2 separate regions of the Homo sapiens genome follow, and region 1 is linked to region 2. The links come from fine-mapping of genetic effects on gene expression. A gene starts in region 2. The other region holds a variant in brackets. All regions are shown on one strand. Distances are between the middles of the regions.

Region 1 (8,338 bases), 240 kb after region 2:
GACTTTGACGTACTTGTGGTTTATGGGAAGATGTTTGCCTAATTTTGTGGCCAGTGAAGCCCCAGTAGCCCAGAGCCAATGAAAAGCAATAGTATCAATCAGAACCTTTTTCTGTCTTTGTGGACAGTATTGAGTTCTGATTCAGAAGATGTGTCCAAAGGCCACATTGCATAAGTCAAGACTACGCTGCTCTGTGAGGGTGCAGCAGTCTGTGGGGTGAGTTTTCAGTGCTGCTGTTGTGCATACAGTGATGAAGGCAGGTGTCCTAGGTCACTTTCATTTTTCCCCCATGTTAATCCAGATGGTCTCATTTTTTTTCTTAGTAGTTTTTGCCATCTAAGGTCCAGCATTTATTGATGATAACTTCCTATCATGGCGTAATGTCCTGTGGAAAATGATATGCTACCCTCTCTTCAACAGGAAACTCCATTCATCTGAATAATCCATTTTTCATACTAAGCAAACTTCCAACTTCTCAAGTCACTTGATACCAAATGTGGAAAACCCTGGACACATTTGAACAAAATCTCAGTGCACGTGCCCATCACACTCCATAGAGGGTGAAAGGCTGTGTGGGGGAAAACACAGAAGATTAAATAGGACATTGAAGTAGGTTGGGGTGAAAACTAATATTTTTAGCAGAAGAGAAAGATGCAAAATAATTGCAGGTGTTAGTTTATATTTACATCATAGATTTGCATAACACAAAAAAGTGCTTTGATTGTTGATGTCCAAAGTTGACGAATAATTTGGTGAGTAATGTAGAGGTGAAAATATCCATAGCTTGTGCATTAAGTTGGCTGTGGAGTGTAATTTGTACTGAGCCAATGTTAACACCATTCAGAGTCTCTGCCAATAAAATCAAGCACTCTATTGAAATGTTCTAATTTATTATTTTACTTTCTTACTAGGAGTAATGGATTTTGTACTTCATAGTCTGATGAGAGGTGTTAAAAGTTAGAGGTGAAATTTATTTTTGAGGCATTTAAGAAGGGAAAAATTATATAAGTGAGGGCCATGGAATAGGTCCCATTAATGAATGCATAATTAGCAATTTGTTTGACATATCCCGTGTCCTGCCATGGTGGGAAGCAGCTGTTTGCAGCATATTTTGGGCTTCTTTTGAATGGTTTTTACAGGCTTTCTGGACACTTCAGATAAGAAGCAGTAAAAGAGCTATTTTTTTAATATGTATAAAGAAAATACAGTGTTCTCTGTCACATGCTTGGAATTTGAGCCTGTGGTGTGAATACCTTAGAAGAGGTGCCATATATTGATTACTTCAGCCATCTCAGTTTACTTGTAAAATAAATGAAGTCAGCCCCTGGCTCCTCTAAGTCCCTAGTGACCATTTCCATCCTTTACCGCCTCTTTCCAAGCATTACCTTAGAATGACCTGGTGGAGCCAGCTTAATGACAACATGTGAACCAAAAAGAATTCCTAATTCTTGCCCTTTGCAAAAAATAAATTAAAATTTAAATTAAAAAATTTTAAGTGTGCAGCCGGCATATAGGAGATGTCTTCTGCCCTAGAGCAGAAGCTTCCCTCCTCTGACGTAGAGCAAGAAAACATCAATATTAGAGCTAAATTGAGAAAATCTTTTCAGTGCATCTGGATTGGTGAACGGCTTAACTGCAGCTACAATGAAATATGAGGAAACAGATTATTGGTTCAAGTTATATATTTATGTTGCACCAAGCACCAGTTCCTGAGCACCTGCGTGTGGAAGTCAGGGTGAAGGCCTGTGGGGTACCAGGATGAATGTGATACAGTTCCTCTACTCAGGAAGCAGTCCAGAAGGGGTCAAAGCCATGCTCACGCAAAATAAACCCAGCTAGAAAGCAAAGCAGAAGGTATCATTTGAGGGATTTTGATGTTCAGGAGAATTAGGACACACACAACGTCCAGCCAGAACACCAGCTCTTTCTCTCTTTATTTTTAAATTTCTATTACTTGGACACTTTTTTCTTTTGCTCATCTAATCATATGACCGCAAAGAGCAATAGTGGATCTGATACTCAGTATTCTGGAATGATCATTGGCATCTGCCAGAATTGTCAGTAGCGTTCACTTTAGTAAAATGTGAACACTGCAAAACTCCTAGGTCCCAGCCATGCCTAGTGTAAAAATGTCAGCCTGCAAAGTTGGTAAAGTCCAGCCACCACATAGTGACTTTTAAGGGTGTTGTAAAATTCTTTCCATAAATAATGTTAAAGAAGAAAAAAAAAAGCTGGACTTCTCAAAATGTCAGGTTTCTTTATCAGCCTTCCAACCAATCACTCAGGGATGCCTTTCCTTCCTGGGAGATGGTACCATAGGCTTACATTATATCATGTATGGAAACATCTGGGGGAAAAACTCAACTCCCATTAAAAAATATATTTTATATAGCCCTGAAAGGAAAACAGTGAACGCCCACACCACTCACAGCTGAGATTACGGGAGTGTCTCTCCCAGCAGCTTTCCCATATGAAGAAATAAAAATCCCAATTCTTCTGCCCATTGTTTTATGGCCACATGGGCTTGCACAGGAAATCAAGGAGGAATTGTAAAACACTGCATTCACAGAGCTTAGTTTCACTTTACCACACTTGCCACATACAGATGCATCAAATCAAATCAGAACAAGATGTGATCTTACTGAGAAAGAATCCTTATAATATCACGTTACCTCCCCCTGAAAATTCCCCCAAGCATGCATAAAATCCAGAAGACCTTAAGTAGAATATTGAAGAGAGCCTTTAAGGCTGAAAAGCAAGCTGCATTTACCTTCCTTGTATCATATTATATATACATATTACAATTATGTCAGCGATTAAAAGCATTGTCATGCTGCATTATGAACTGTTTTTACGTTTAGGATTAGATAATTCTTTCCCCATACCCCCTCAGATTCCTTTTATGTCCTAAGGGCAAATCCTTTCTCTTGGGTCAGGAATGTAATAAGGTAGGTTTTCCTCTCTCTGGGATATTGTGTCTGTCTCACTGTGTTTAAATTGATTCAGAAAGCTCTTCAGAGCAAAATACAGTATTTTCTTTGTATATGAGCCAGCGGTTGACTAACCCTTGGGGAATTCTCTGTGTTGAGCATTTGAAAGGTACAGGTTGGGTATGTTTGAACTGCTGATGCTCAGTGAAGACCACTGGGAAAGTGGATTGGCCGTGGCTCTGAGAGAGGCCTTTTCTCTAATGTGGACTCGAGGAAAAAAAAAATAATTGTTCCAACAAATAATTTTTAATGGTACAATAATTTAGGAAAATTAGCCAGTTCATTTTAATAAGAATGGATCAAGACCAAAATAAAGAGGGAATTATAGTTTATACAAATGTATGAACATACAGTTTAAAGGCATTTAGCCACCAAAAATAAATTTTCTAAAAACAGCAGTTTTCTCTCCATCCACTGTATGAAGTGTTAACACATCCCTCCTGAGAGTTGAACCACAGGCCCTGGGATCAAAACAGAGCAAATTTACCATTTACACTGAAGGGGACTTTCACTTAGATTTGGTATCTCCTTCCAGACCACCAGTTAGCAGAGGTCAGACCCATTGCCAACCAAGGATAACTAATTTAACCCTTGTAATGTTGGTTACTGGTTTTGACAGTGCCCCAGAGTCTAGGATCTTGGAATATGTATCAAGTATAGTCAGAGTATCAGGAGTACACTGTGTGTGTTTGTGTCTGCATGTCTGCATGGATGCTTTCGGTTTTCTCCCTCCCTCCCTTCTTGCCTTTCTTCTTTCTTTTCTTCATCTCATTTATTTTAATGGGTACACAGCACCCCTTCTCTTCTGTGCATTTTCTGTAGCATTTAATTAAAAGGCATTTGGGAAATGTTCTCTTCTGTCGAGGCCTTTGACTCTCTCACAAATGAGCAAACTTTTAGACCTTGAAATTGCCACTTTTTTCCTCAGCTACATCTACATAGTGGGTAGAAAGTTTAGCCCTGAATTTTGTTCTTATCTATGCCACAAACTCATGGTGCACTATTAGGTAAGCTTCTGAACCCCTCTGAACATCAGGAAAACCCTCCTGTGGGAGATGAGGTGTGAGGAGGAGGCAGCCAAGTAGAAAGACATCGGACAAGCAGGCCAGGCAGAAGAGTTGGCATGAGCCAAAGCCCAGTGTGTGCAGCCTACACACCAGGTTCCTGCAAACAGATGAGAGAAGATAAACCAGGAAGGAGCATAACGCAAGCAGCCATGTTCCCACATCTATGACGGATGGATTCACATCCATCATGGGTGGCAAGGACCTTAATACCTATAGCCTGGGACCAGGGGACACATCTTGACTTTTTGCTAAACAAACTATGCTCCTGATACTTGTACTGCAGTTGTGTTACCTGACAAATGAAATATACAGACATCATTTTGCATGTACTTTAGATAAAATAACTAACAGGACACTTTTACTTTAAAAATCCAGGTGGCAAAATTTGGCCGAACATTGAGTTTCAGTTAGTTTCAGTCTGGTTTATTTTGCAAGCGCATTCATTATTTATTCCCCAGAGAGTGCTGAAATTCATAAACTTTTAACCAGTTGCTCTGGTATAACCACACTAAATTAATATTCTGTTCACATGCAATGTGGAGATCATTATGAAAGCCACGTATATGTCACAG[G/A]CATGTGCCTGAAGTGTCAAATGAAAGATTTTAAAGACTTGAATGATTATGCAATATACACCGGCCAAATACTCCCAAGAAAATCTGCTTATAAAAATAAGTTTTATGGAATAAAAGTACCAAATTAAAAACATATTTTGAGGAATAAATTAGCACTTCTTGAGGAATGAAATTCTTACTTTGGTGGGGAGGTAAAAGACAAAGCAAGAAAACAAAATTGCAGAAATGGCTCAAATTCAAGAAAAGTCACCCTCCCCCAGGAGTGATTTCACCATGTGAAGAATGGTGCTTAGCACAAGGCAGGCTTTCTTCCCAGTTCCCCTTTGGAAGGACCACAGAATTTTGCACACACACACACCCTTATTTATTTATTTTAAATTGCCAAGTTTAAACCTGTGTTTCTAGGTAAAGTGCCTTCTTTATTGCTCCAATGAAAATTCTGTAGGACCAACCTTACTTCCCTTTTTTGACTCTTCAAACATGTTAGTCATGATAGGGGGCAAGATTTCTATTCCGTGAATGAGATTTCCACAAGCAGATTAAGGAGGAAATATGCCCTTTAGTTTTCTATTCGTTGACAGCATTGCATTGGGAAGAAATCTCTGTGCAAACTGTCCACAAGAACAATAGCTAGGGGCCCAAATTCCAGTGAGATAGAGTGCAGCTTAATCTTGTCAAGGATAACTTGGTCTTTGTTTTTCCTCCTTCATCTGATGCTTTAATGAATTATTTCAAGAGAAACCTACGATAAAGCATCAGATTATTTTTTTCTACAGCCAGTGGGACATAACATTGAAAGTTAGGGTTACCATTTAAATGCCAGAACCCTTACCCCACAGTTATGTCAACATTGTCATGGTGGGCAAAAATAAATTTTAAAATTCTTTTCATTTATAACAAATAGGAGCCAACTAAGATAACTCTGAATTATGTCATGACTAACTCAGAACCCCAGTCTAAAATTATAGTCTGAAAGGAGGCCCTCCTTGGTGGACCCTACAGGCATCTGTGATGCTGAGGTTTATCAGATTGTGGGGAATAGAGCAATCACAGGAAATTGCTTCCGTTTCCTGTGGCTTCTGATTCTCAAAGCACAAATCTAAGGCAGGCAGCCGGTTGGGAGTATATTGAGGCCTGGGACCACATTGGCTCCAAAGCTTGTTGTTTTCAATAACACATTTCTAATAACACATTCCTCCAGCAAGTATTTACTGAGTTCCTACTATAGGCTGGGCATTGTTCCAGGCACTTGGAACATATCATTGAACAAAACTGATAAAAATCCCTGGCTGTGTGGAATTCACATTCTGGTGGGCGGAGCAGACAATAAATATTAAACAATGTCAGTCAGTAAATTATAGTGTGTTGGAAGTGATAAGGGCCACGGGAAAAAAGGGAGAGCAGCAGGGTAGGGCTTGGAGAGTTCAAGGATGGGGAGGTTGGACAGTAAGTGGGGTCATCAGGACCAGGATCGAGCGGGGCGATGAGTCTCTGTAAGGAGGTGGCATTTGAAGAAGGACTGCCAGAGGTCAAGTTATCCTCGCTCAGTGACCCCATCCTAGACGTGACCACACGTCTCCAGCTGTGGATCTCTATGTTGCCAGCCTCTGGAGGGCATTTTCCTCTAAAACCCTGGCTCTGCTCTGTCTCCCTTGTTTCAGGGGTGGTCAGGTGTGCCTCCAGGTCAGTGTGGTCCTCGGGTTTCCTCTCACTCCACCTTTTTTCTTGCCGGACACTTTGTCACACATCCAGCTGACTTCTGGTGACCACTCATCTGTATTCTGGGATGAGGTCACAGTCTCACTTTTCCAGCAGGCCTCCTTGATAAAAGGCTGTTGCACAGAACTGAATTTTGCAGGCAGCATGGGAGAAACAAAAGGTTCAAAACAACAAACTGCTTAAAACTCGAGTGCTATATTGATTTCTATTTGCAACTCCTTAGCCCCTTCCAGCACAGTAATTTCAAATGAACCAGTTTTCCTGCTTAAGCCCACACTCCAACATATTGCTAGACATTTTCTGTCTTTCCTGTCTGATCCCCCCAAACTTACTGGGGCTGGCAAGCTACCACTGGCAAAGAACTTAATACTTCCTTGCCTTAATCGCTTCTTTTGGGGTCCTCCAAAGACACCCCACATGATGACATGCTCTGTCCCCTGCCATTTACTGTGTCCTTTGTTCTCTCCTTTACTTTCTTTTTTTGTTTCCCTATCTCTTAAAATACCGGTCTCGTCATTGTTTTCAATTTCTTCCTTTTTCATCCTCTGTACAGTCTCCATTGGTCAGGGGTTTTCAAATTGGGCTTTGTGAAATCTTTAAAATACTGTGTAGGTGTTTTTTAGTTTACCAAAGATAACATGGGGTAGGGAAGGGGCCCACATTCCTGCATCAGCTGCAGTCTTTCTTAGATTCTCAAATCTTTATGTCCAGGATTGTCTTCTCTGTGGGATCTCTCTACCAGAGATGTCCTGGAGGCATCTCCACTATGATATGTTCCACACAGAAGGGTAATCGTCACCAAATCTCCTGGCCCTCCAATACTGTTATTGTCTCAGATCTTTCAAGCTGGAGACTTCGGTATCACCTGTTACTCCTCTCTCTAATTCATCACCCACAAATTATTCCATAATGTCTTTCACATCTAGCCCCTTACTATTCATCCTCCTGGCTACTGCTGTAGTTCAAGGTCACAGCTTTCTTGGATGATTATAGCAACTCCTAGATGGATTCATTGCCCAGTCTTTGCTTAGTGCCTCTATGATGCTGCCAGAGTTACCTTTTATAAGAACAAATCTGATCATTGCCCTGCTTAAAACCTGCTCTTGGTTGCCTGGGATCTGGTTGCCTTAGGGCACTCAACTCCCCTTATAATTTTTCCCCAGGCTGCCTCTGCAGCACTCATCCTACAGCCACTCACCAGCATGTGCACACATACACATGCATACACACACATATGCACAGACACGCACACACATTCCCCAATCCTATACTTGGCACCATTTTCCAACACATTGTGTTTTTCTTAACACTGGGCCTCTGTATCTCTCTTCCCTTCTTCCTCAATTCACTTTTTCCTGTGTCAGCCTCCCTTTCTTCCTTCTGAATTCAGCTCAGTTACCCTGTTTATGAAACCTTCCCTTCTTCACTATTTTATTAGTGCCTATCCCATTGTTTCCCATTCACCTTATTTAGACTCAGGCACAATGCCTATGTCTCATATATGTTTTGCCCATGGCACACAAATGAATGAATCCCTATAGCCTACTGTCTGGGCTTATGCTCTTTCTCTAAACTCTATGCCTTCTACTAATAAGCTAAAGAAAATTACAATCTAGGTATAGAACATGTAGTGGATACTCATATTGCGTGTATGGAGATTTTGCTTTTATATACTTAGATGTACTGTTAATAGGGGGTCAAGATGTTTAGGAGGGTACTGCACACCAGGGTGGCTTGTGAATAAAAGTTGATTGAAAAATGATAGAGTTGATACTTCTACAGGTTGAAAAGCATGCCGAAGCGGAGGGGCTTGCTTTCCACCTTGGTTTGGTAGGACAAACCTGGAAAAGCCCTGGGCAATGGGCCTGCTAGTTTTCTATGATGTGGGGAGCATGAGTGAAGCAAAAGAATCATGCATTCTTCTGAGTAGCTTACTTTTAATTGCCAAGCAAATGTGTCCGTGCATTGAAGGCTAATTTTTAGACAGTAT
Region 2 (8,338 bases):
TAACTTAAGTCAATTGGAGGTGGAATTTTGTCCCATGCAACTTGAAGTTTATTAGTACACATGGACTATCCTCCTGGAATTTTCCAATAATTAACTGGGTGCTACTGTGCAGGGAGATGGAAGAACTGCCATGGTAAGTGAGGGGAGAAAAGTATTTGTATAACATCGGCCCATGGTAGGAATCAGAGGAGCACGTGAAGTTTGTTTCCAGGTTCATCCTTTGTTCTCTCTCTTGCGTATCCTTCATTCCTCTCCCACTATCTTTTGCAGTGTTGTTAGGAGTTGAATTATGTCCCCCAGAAGAAAATGTTGAAGTTCTAACCCTAGGAACCTCAGAATATGATCTTGGAAACAGGCTTGTTGCAGATGTAATTAGTTAAGATGAGGTCATTCTGGAGTAGGGTGGGTCTCTAACAGAATATAACTCGTGCTTTTATAAGAAGAGAAGCCAGAGACAAAGGGAGAATGCCATATGAGGACAGAGGTGGAGACTGAAAGGGAGAAGCTGCAAGCCACGGGACACCCAGATTGACAGCCACCACCAGAAGCCAGTAAGAGGCAAGGGAGAAATTTCTTTTCCAGGTTTCAGAGGGAGTGTGGCCCTGCAAGACACCTTACTTTTGGACTTCAAGCCTCTAGAAACTATAGGACAATACATGTCTGTCCTTTAAGCCATCCAGTTTTTGGTACTTTGTTACCATGGCCCTAGAAAACAAATGCAAGTATCTTCAAGTATCTCCTACTTCACTGTTGCAACAACAAGAAAGAAAGTCTGTCTTAAAAGCTTAACTATTCTGAGGACTTACTATATTAAAATTTCTTAAGATATCTGCATTTGAAAAGAGAACTGATGAGAGATGGCAATAAGTCAATCTATGATAGAATTTCAGACATCAAGGAAGGGCAGTGCACAGAATCCTGTAAGTCTCTTAGTGCTGTGTATCACTACAAACAAAGGTTGTAGCATTGTCTTTCTGGGTGTCTTTGGGTTTTTACAGATGTCTCAGGAGCAACTGCAGGAAAGGGAAAGAGAGAAAGGCTTAGGGGGATTGGGCTCCGAGACCTCACTCCAATTTCAACCATAATAACTCTTCTATATTTTGGGATTCTACGTAAGATTTAATTTGGAAAGCGTTCTGGTGTTAACACAGAGAGAAAGTCACTGCATTATGACATTATTTAACCCACACTCAGGCAAAGTGGGTTTTTTACCCCTCCACTGTTTCTGCAAAATGTGCCTACTTATATGTATGGGTTTACCATTAAAGCAGAGTTGGACACATAAGAGACACAGCATTATTCTTCCTCTTTTTTGTTTAGCTATTGTGACGGGCATAGGGGGAAAGATTAGCTGCTTTTGCTTTGTTCTTGTCTTTTAAGAACTGAAAAATCAAGATCTTCATGATTCAAAATGTGCTATAAGACTGAAGTAAGAGTCGAAATATCTAGTTTATTCTATTATTTGATGATTTATTGGCTGTCTTTCTTTGTATTTATTTTTTGCCATTGGGTGAACAGAGTAGGCTATCAGGATGTACTATTTGTATTCATGTGATTGAGGCAGAAGCAGTACATGAATACTAAAAACAATTGTAACTGATGCTGGGAGTATATAAAGGAAAGAGTGGCTTGCAATTCTCTTCAATTGTAAAAGCATAATTCTTACACACTTGTAGCCCTCTATACTTTTCCATGTATTTCTCATTGGAAACCCTCAGCCATCCTGGGAGGTACGCGACCTGGCACTCCTAACACTATCCCCTAGATGGGCTCAGAGCCTATGGAGGCTCAGAGAATCCTCCCAGGCCTGAGGCCAGTTAGTGAGCGCGGAGATGGGGCTGCCACAGGGCTTCTGAGTCTCGTGCTCTCTGCGATGAGTCAGTGGTGTTTTGTTTTTTCCTGAGCCGTGAGGTCGAGGGAAATCTTAAAACAAATGGCTAACTAGGGCCTTTAGCCCCACCTTACCTCCACCACTTCCACCATAAAACCTTAAGTCTGTCTCTGCACTTGTCATGTCATTGTGACAAGGAAGGAGTCCCAAGAAACAAACAATGAATACCACCCTCAATTTCGTTAAAAGATTCTTCAGTTAAGCATTTGAATCTCAAAATGCTCTTCAAATTCTAATAGCTCATCATTCATCCACCCACACTCTTCCTTCAGTCAAGACACTTGGCGGCAACGCCACACAAGCAACCCGGAGCTCCGGGGCACTTCTGGCTGGGTGGACCCGGCTTAACCAGAAAGAGGGGATGTTGGAATGTCACAGGGGCTTTCTTTTCTTTCTTTTTCTTCCTGTGTTTCCCCCCGAGAACTCCTTTTTTAAGTTACATGTCCAGGTTGGATATATTAAAATGACGCAGATGAACAAGGACTGGATGGTCGAGGAAGGAGGCCAAATAACTTTTACTAGCATGGGCCTCTGAAAATGAAGCAGGGACAGAGACACTTTGTAGCTCAAGGAAAAGCGGCACGTTAGAGACCAGGCTCCAAGCCTGGGGTCTTTGTTTTTGTGTCTTTTATAAAGTGGCCCATAGGGACAGCAGGCTGTGTGGTGGGAGCTCCTCCTCGCTTCGCGGATTTGGCCCCGAGGGCAGACGAGTCCGGTGGAGAGAAAAACCCTGAACTTCCAAAGGCATCATCCCGCGAGAGGGAGTTTCGGGGATGGCTTTGGGAAAATGTAAAACAAGGAGATGGGGAGCCAAGGATGGGGGGCGGTGGTAATCAGAGAAGCCTTAAAAGAATAAAGGGGAGTCCAGCCCTTGAGCAAGAGTGAGAAAGAGAGGCTGGGTGGGAGAAGATGGGAGCAGACAGGACGCAGCACGAGTGCCAGGGCGCGCATTTGGGGGGTGTCCTGGCGGTGTGGAGAGAGAAGAGAGAGGGCGCGGGTGACATCACGCCCGGGCCCCCTTCCCCTCGCCGGGTGGGTGGGGCTTCGGCGCGCCGGGAGGGCGCGGGGTCAAGTAGGGGGAAGAGGAGGAGCAGGCATGAATGTGTCTGTGTGAAGACCGGGGAGGGGCGGAGGAGGAGGAGGAGGAGGAGAAGGAGGAGGAGGAGGAGGAGGCGGCGGCGGCGGCGGCGGCGGCGGCGGAGGGCGGGGAGGGAGCGCGCGCGTGGCTCGCGGCGCCCGGGCTCCCCCCCAGCCCCCGACCCCGGCCCGCGACGCGCCGCCTCCCAGCCGCCGCCGCCCGCCTCGCAGCTGGGACCCACTCCGGGCTTGGGGACCCGGCGGGCGGGAGAAGCGGGGGCTCCCGGCGCGGCCTGGAAGGAGCGAGAAAGCAAAAGTAAGGCGAGCAGCACTCCAAGTTTTCCCAACTTCGCCCCCTGCGGCGGCAGGCGTCCTGCTGCTCAGCGCGTCCCCTCCGAGCCCGAGAGTGGCTGAAAGAAAAGGGACTGGGCGGGGGCCGGGGCGGAGGAAGAGAGAGTGCGAGGGAGCGAGGAGAGTCCGGCAACATCTGTTAAAACTTGGGGGAGGAGGAGCGCGGGGAGGAGGAGGAAGAGGAGGAGAGAAGGGAAGGAGGGAGCGCGCGGGAGGGGAGCGCGGAGCCGAGGGACAACTTTTCCACCCCGTGAGTAGTGCAGGCGGTGCCAGGTCGGGGCGGGGGGCTTCTCCACCCAGCACGGGGCACCAGGCCGGGATGGGACCTTTTTCCAGAAAGTCGATTGGATGCCAGGAGAGGCGTACGGCTGGGGGTTTCTTTCTTTCTCTTTCCCCTCCCTCCCGCGGTTGAACCAAATCAGAACTGTCACTCAGGGCTTGTGAGTCAGAAGGGATCGGATTACACGATCCCCGAAACTGATGCCGGAGCTGCACGAGCGGGAGGGAGCGGGCAGGGGCAGCGCCACCGGCGCGCTCGCACACTCGCACTCGCGCACACCCGCCGCTCCCACTCACCCGCGCCGCTCTCCCGCCTTCCCCGCGCGCCCCGCGGCCGCCCGCGCCGCACCATGCCCGCGGCGGGCGCACCCCGCGCCCAGCCCGGCCGCTCGCGGTAGCCGTAGCCGCCCGCGGCCGCGCGGAGCGGGGAGCCGCCAGCCTGCGCCCCGTCCGCGGGTCTATGGGAAGTTCGGGGACTTGACAGCCGCTGCCGCCGCAGGTACGTCCCGCTCGAAGTTCTTTGTTTCGCGGACCCCGCAGCCCGCTCCTGCGGCCGCGCCCGCGCCTCCGGGGCCAGAGGTGGTCCCCAGCGTGGGGACGGGATGGAGTGAAAATGGCTGTCAAAAGGCGCCCAGATTTAGAGAGCCGCCGGTGAGGCGTCCGAGCAAGGCTTGCATTCGCTCCCTCCTCCTGGAAGGTCCTTTCCGAAGAGTCCGACCCGCGGACCGGCCGGAGACGGATTGGAGAATTTCACCTCCCGGAGGGGGGACGAAGTTTGCCGCAGTGGTGGCGGCGCCCCTCGCCTCCGCCCCCATCCAAAGGGTTCAGAAGAACTCCGCGAGCCCCGCACGCGCCTGGCTCCTTCCTTTGCGCGGTGGCGCTCTACGGCTCGGGCTTCGGGCGCGCACGGCGCTCGGGATGGGCGGAAGGAGGCGGGAGGCATGGTGGGTGCGCGCGGGGACCTCCGCCGCGGGGGCCGCCGCCGCTGGGGCTTCTCCAGCCCGGGCTATGCTTCGGAGGGCGGGGGTGTGGTGTGAGCGGATGGAGAGAGGCGCGCCTTCGTCGTCATAGAGGAAAAGTGAAAGTTGTACCATCTGTATATGATTTGGGATTCTCTTATTTCTTTTCCTTTCCAGGGGCAGCGCGCACAGACACACAAAGTAACCGTGGTCCATGCAATAATCATTTAAGGTGCCGCGTTTACACAGAGCAGCAGGGGACAGTTACTTTCTTGAGTAGCAGCGGGAAAACGGGCGGGAGAAGGCAGAGAGGGTGTAAATATTGATCCCAAACTTGCAGAGTTTGTGAAGCGACTTTTAAGCAGATTGTCCGAAGCGGACGCTCCACCCCGCACCCGGCCTTTTATCCTTTCCTGAACTTTGTGCTCCTGTCCCCCATTGCACCTCCTTCTGTAAGATGCCGTCCCCCGAGAGGCGCTGCACCCCAGGCTTCCCTGCCTGACCCCGCGTGGAAAGAGGATTAAGGAGGCTCCCTCCGCCGCTGGTCATCCTGCCCCAACTTCTCATCTCCCCAGTGCAGACTGCCGGGTAGATTCTGGCCTTGGGTACAGTGCTCATGGCCCTCTGCCAGTTTATATGTACATATATTTATGTAAAACATTTTCTCCCAGCTCTTTGCCAGCTGTTCCACATTTTCCAGCTGCCACTTCAGTTTGAAATGATGGACTGTCTGCGTCTCCAAGTCAAAGAACCCTTTAGTCAAAGGTATGGAGGGCCGGCCGCTGTGCAAATACATGGCAGTGCCATTAGCCGGGCTGGTATTATTAGTTCTAAAAAATACCTCCTGCTCCCCTTTTCCTCTCCTCCCTCTTCTCTCCAGTTAGGCTTTCCAGAGCACAGTATATACACTTTGCTGAAAATTCGAGTAATTAGGCCTTTCCCTCTTAAATGTGATTTTTGTACAGAATTTGGATGAGGCCGTTTTTTTAGATCCCTGAAATATGTGTCTGGTGGAAATAAATTAACTTTTAAAAATAAAAGAGTTTCAGCTTGAGCGCATTGGGCATGGCGGGTGGGGGGCCTGCACCCTGGCCGTCTGAAATGAGCTCTTTTCAGTCTATTTAAGGCAGGAACCATTCATCCTCCCCATGCTACACTTTTTGTGTTGTTTGATGTCTTAGCATATTATAGACCGAAATCTACAAGAATTGACCTAAAGTATTAATTTTGAGTATTTATGTAATTGCTCGGTAATTTTGAATAGGTGCCTTATTGATTGATTCCTGTAATTATTTCATTTAGGTTTTAGATTAAAAATTAATAGTAGTCTGACAGTTTCTTAATTACATGTGTCAAGATTCTTTTGAAGGAGGAAAATGCTATGTTTTAAAATAGTGAAATAGCCTCAAAATCTCTTAATTTTTCTAAAGCAGAACAGTATTTCAGTTGAGGGGATATATTAAAGCTGCCGGGACTGGTTTTAACAATGTAAACTCTGTGAAGTATCTGAAGAATTTGTTTATGTTAGGAAATATTGGTCTTAACGACCTGGTACACAAACACTTTGGCCAGTTAAACTATATTCAAACCTAAAACAAACATGAAATAACATTTAAATTAGTTGTAATAGCATGCTTATACAGAGTAGAGAGTTTATTTTATACTAAAAGCTATTTAATTAGAAACTCCCCGCCTAAGGGGAGATCCTTTCAGGGTATGCAATTCTTAAAGTCAGCCTAGGGAAGCTTTGGTTTAAGATGCATGAATGAGTCCAATGTGAGAGGTGTCTAGTGAAATTTCACACAAGCAGAAACACTTTAAAGATATAGATTGTATTATTGTTAGTAGGCTGGTAGGTCCAACTCAGATGCCTACCAATTCCCAGTGCCTTTAACATGCTTGTGTTCCTTGACTGAACCTTGATATAAACACATTTCTATTGTATATCTAATTTGCAAAGGACCATAGACAGAAATGAGAAAATTCAATACTGATGAAAAATGGCTCTGTAGAGTTATTTCATTAATTATTTAATGAAAGAATTGTTAATTTATCAATTCGATGTGCAAGCCTAAAAGTTGGACTTTCCTTTGTTTCTTGGCCAGTGAAGTTTCCTTAATTACCTGCATGCTGTAAGCATTTCAGACTTCCTCTGTGCTTAGCCATTTAGAGGTCCTTCCTCCTATGTAAGGTATCCTGCTTACTGAGACCTCTTCTCCCCCTCCATTTTTTGAGGATAGAGTTTGGGAGCTTATGAAAAGAAACAATTTAATGATCATTGTTGCATGCACTCACTTACATGGAGACAGTAATGTACTAAGAAAAACCAGTCTTGAAGGAAAAGTGAATCAATGAGTCATGAAATCCTCAAGAAAACCTTAGCAATGGAATGTTAATGCTTTTAGACTATAGTAGATTATCTTAAAAGTCAGACTTTTCTTCTTTATGCAATTGTTGTAAATCCCCAGCTAAAGAATTCTTTGAAGGAGGTTTTAGTTTTGCTGGCATTCATATTCTGAGGTCGGTCTGATTTGTTTTGGAAGATTCAGTAAATTTTCTGCCAACTTATATCATGAGAGGCAATTAAAATGCTGAAATGACTTTATAGGACACACACACACATACACACACGTTTGTTAAACAAAAGGTTCCACTCTAATAATGACTTCAGGTTGTCTTTTCATTAAAGCCTAGGAGAAGATACTGCCCTTCTCTTCACGTTGTCATTTTTCTAGATGAAAATTGATCTGTTTCTGGTTTCAAAGCAAATAAAGGGAGACAGAATAAACAACAACAGGGCAGGGGGTACTGCTGCAAACTTTTTCAAGTATTTTCAGTGTATTTTTCATCTTTACTTTTATTTGATGGGCCTGTGAAATAGAGCTGTAGACTGGCGAAGACTTTAAATGAAATTTCACACTTTGATGATTTTTTTTAAACTTTGATATATTGACAGCAAAAGGAGCTGCAAAGCTTTTATATAACTTGAGCAGTAACGCCAAGCAGCAGTCAAACGTCTCTATGCATTTGTGTTTAACTGCAGAAGAAAAACATGTCCATGGGCAGTGGAGGTTCTTATCAACCCCCTAATCCCAGATCCCAGCAAACCTTGAGGGCATGCCTCAGATCTTGCTGAAATCACTGTAGACTCTCACAGTTTGCAGATTAAATATGCTATGTGTTCCTGGCTCCAGCAACAGTTTTATGAGCTCACTAAGCTTCCTGTTTTAAGATCCTTTTCTTAAGTTTTTAGGAGCTGCTAAAGGCAATGCTGTCTGGAGTAAGTGGTACTTGTTAATTTAGAGCCACTTTAGATATTTCATTCTCTTTTTTAAAAATTGCCATAATTATTATTTTTAAATTGAAAGGCCAGTCACTCCAGGGAGAGGGAGGAGAGCTGTTTGAAAGAAATTGAATGTTAAATGTGTTTGGAAGTACATTTGATCGCAAACTTTACATGGTGTCTCAATTGTTTTATGGCACTTTTCTTTTGCCTGGCCCCTGAAAATGAGAGACTTTTTCCACTTGTAATTCTAAATGCGCTATATTTGAGTGCCAAATTTCTTCACTACTCATTACCTCTGTGAGTGTCTTTTGGTTTTTTTAAATGTGAAAGTGTTTTTTGTTCTGTGTGTATATATTTCAACCCGACAAAATGTCTCAGAAAATCTATGGCCTTCTAAAGAAGCTGAATGAAAAAGCCATTACATAGTTAATAAGGTGGCTTTGGAACATTTCAGCCCCCTCCTGAAAGGCAATATTGTGTTGAGCTCCACATCTG

Which allele goes with the higher level. Positions count from the first base shown, and alleles are read on the strand shown. Sizes are in standard deviations (SD) of each study's normalised expression.
As copies of G replace A in region 1, the expression in fibroblasts of the gene that starts at base 3,859 in region 2 goes up (small effect, 0.14 SD a copy in GTEx).

The links. PIP is the estimated chance that this variant, and not a neighbour inherited with it, causes the effect. A credible set is the group of variants that fine-mapping cannot tell apart.
Region 1: its variant is the best candidate, but not a certain one, in a credible set for the expression of GLI3 in fibroblasts (GTEx, PIP 0.90).

The regions. Positions count from the first base shown.
Region 1 is chr7:41,991,165-41,999,502 of GRCh38, reverse strand. The region is part of intron 10 of GLI3 (GLI family zinc finger 3); the gene reads left to right. Among named protein-coding and RNA genes, the nearest start is that of GLI3, 240 kb to the left of the region's middle. The variant G/A (reference allele first, on the strand shown) is at 4,630.
Region 2 is chr7:42,232,730-42,241,067 of GRCh38, reverse strand. It overlaps GLI3 (GLI family zinc finger 3), which reads left to right and starts at 3,859. Exons shown (of 15, transcript NM_000168.6): 1 at 3,859-4,097. RefSeq lists an enhancer at 3,134-4,115.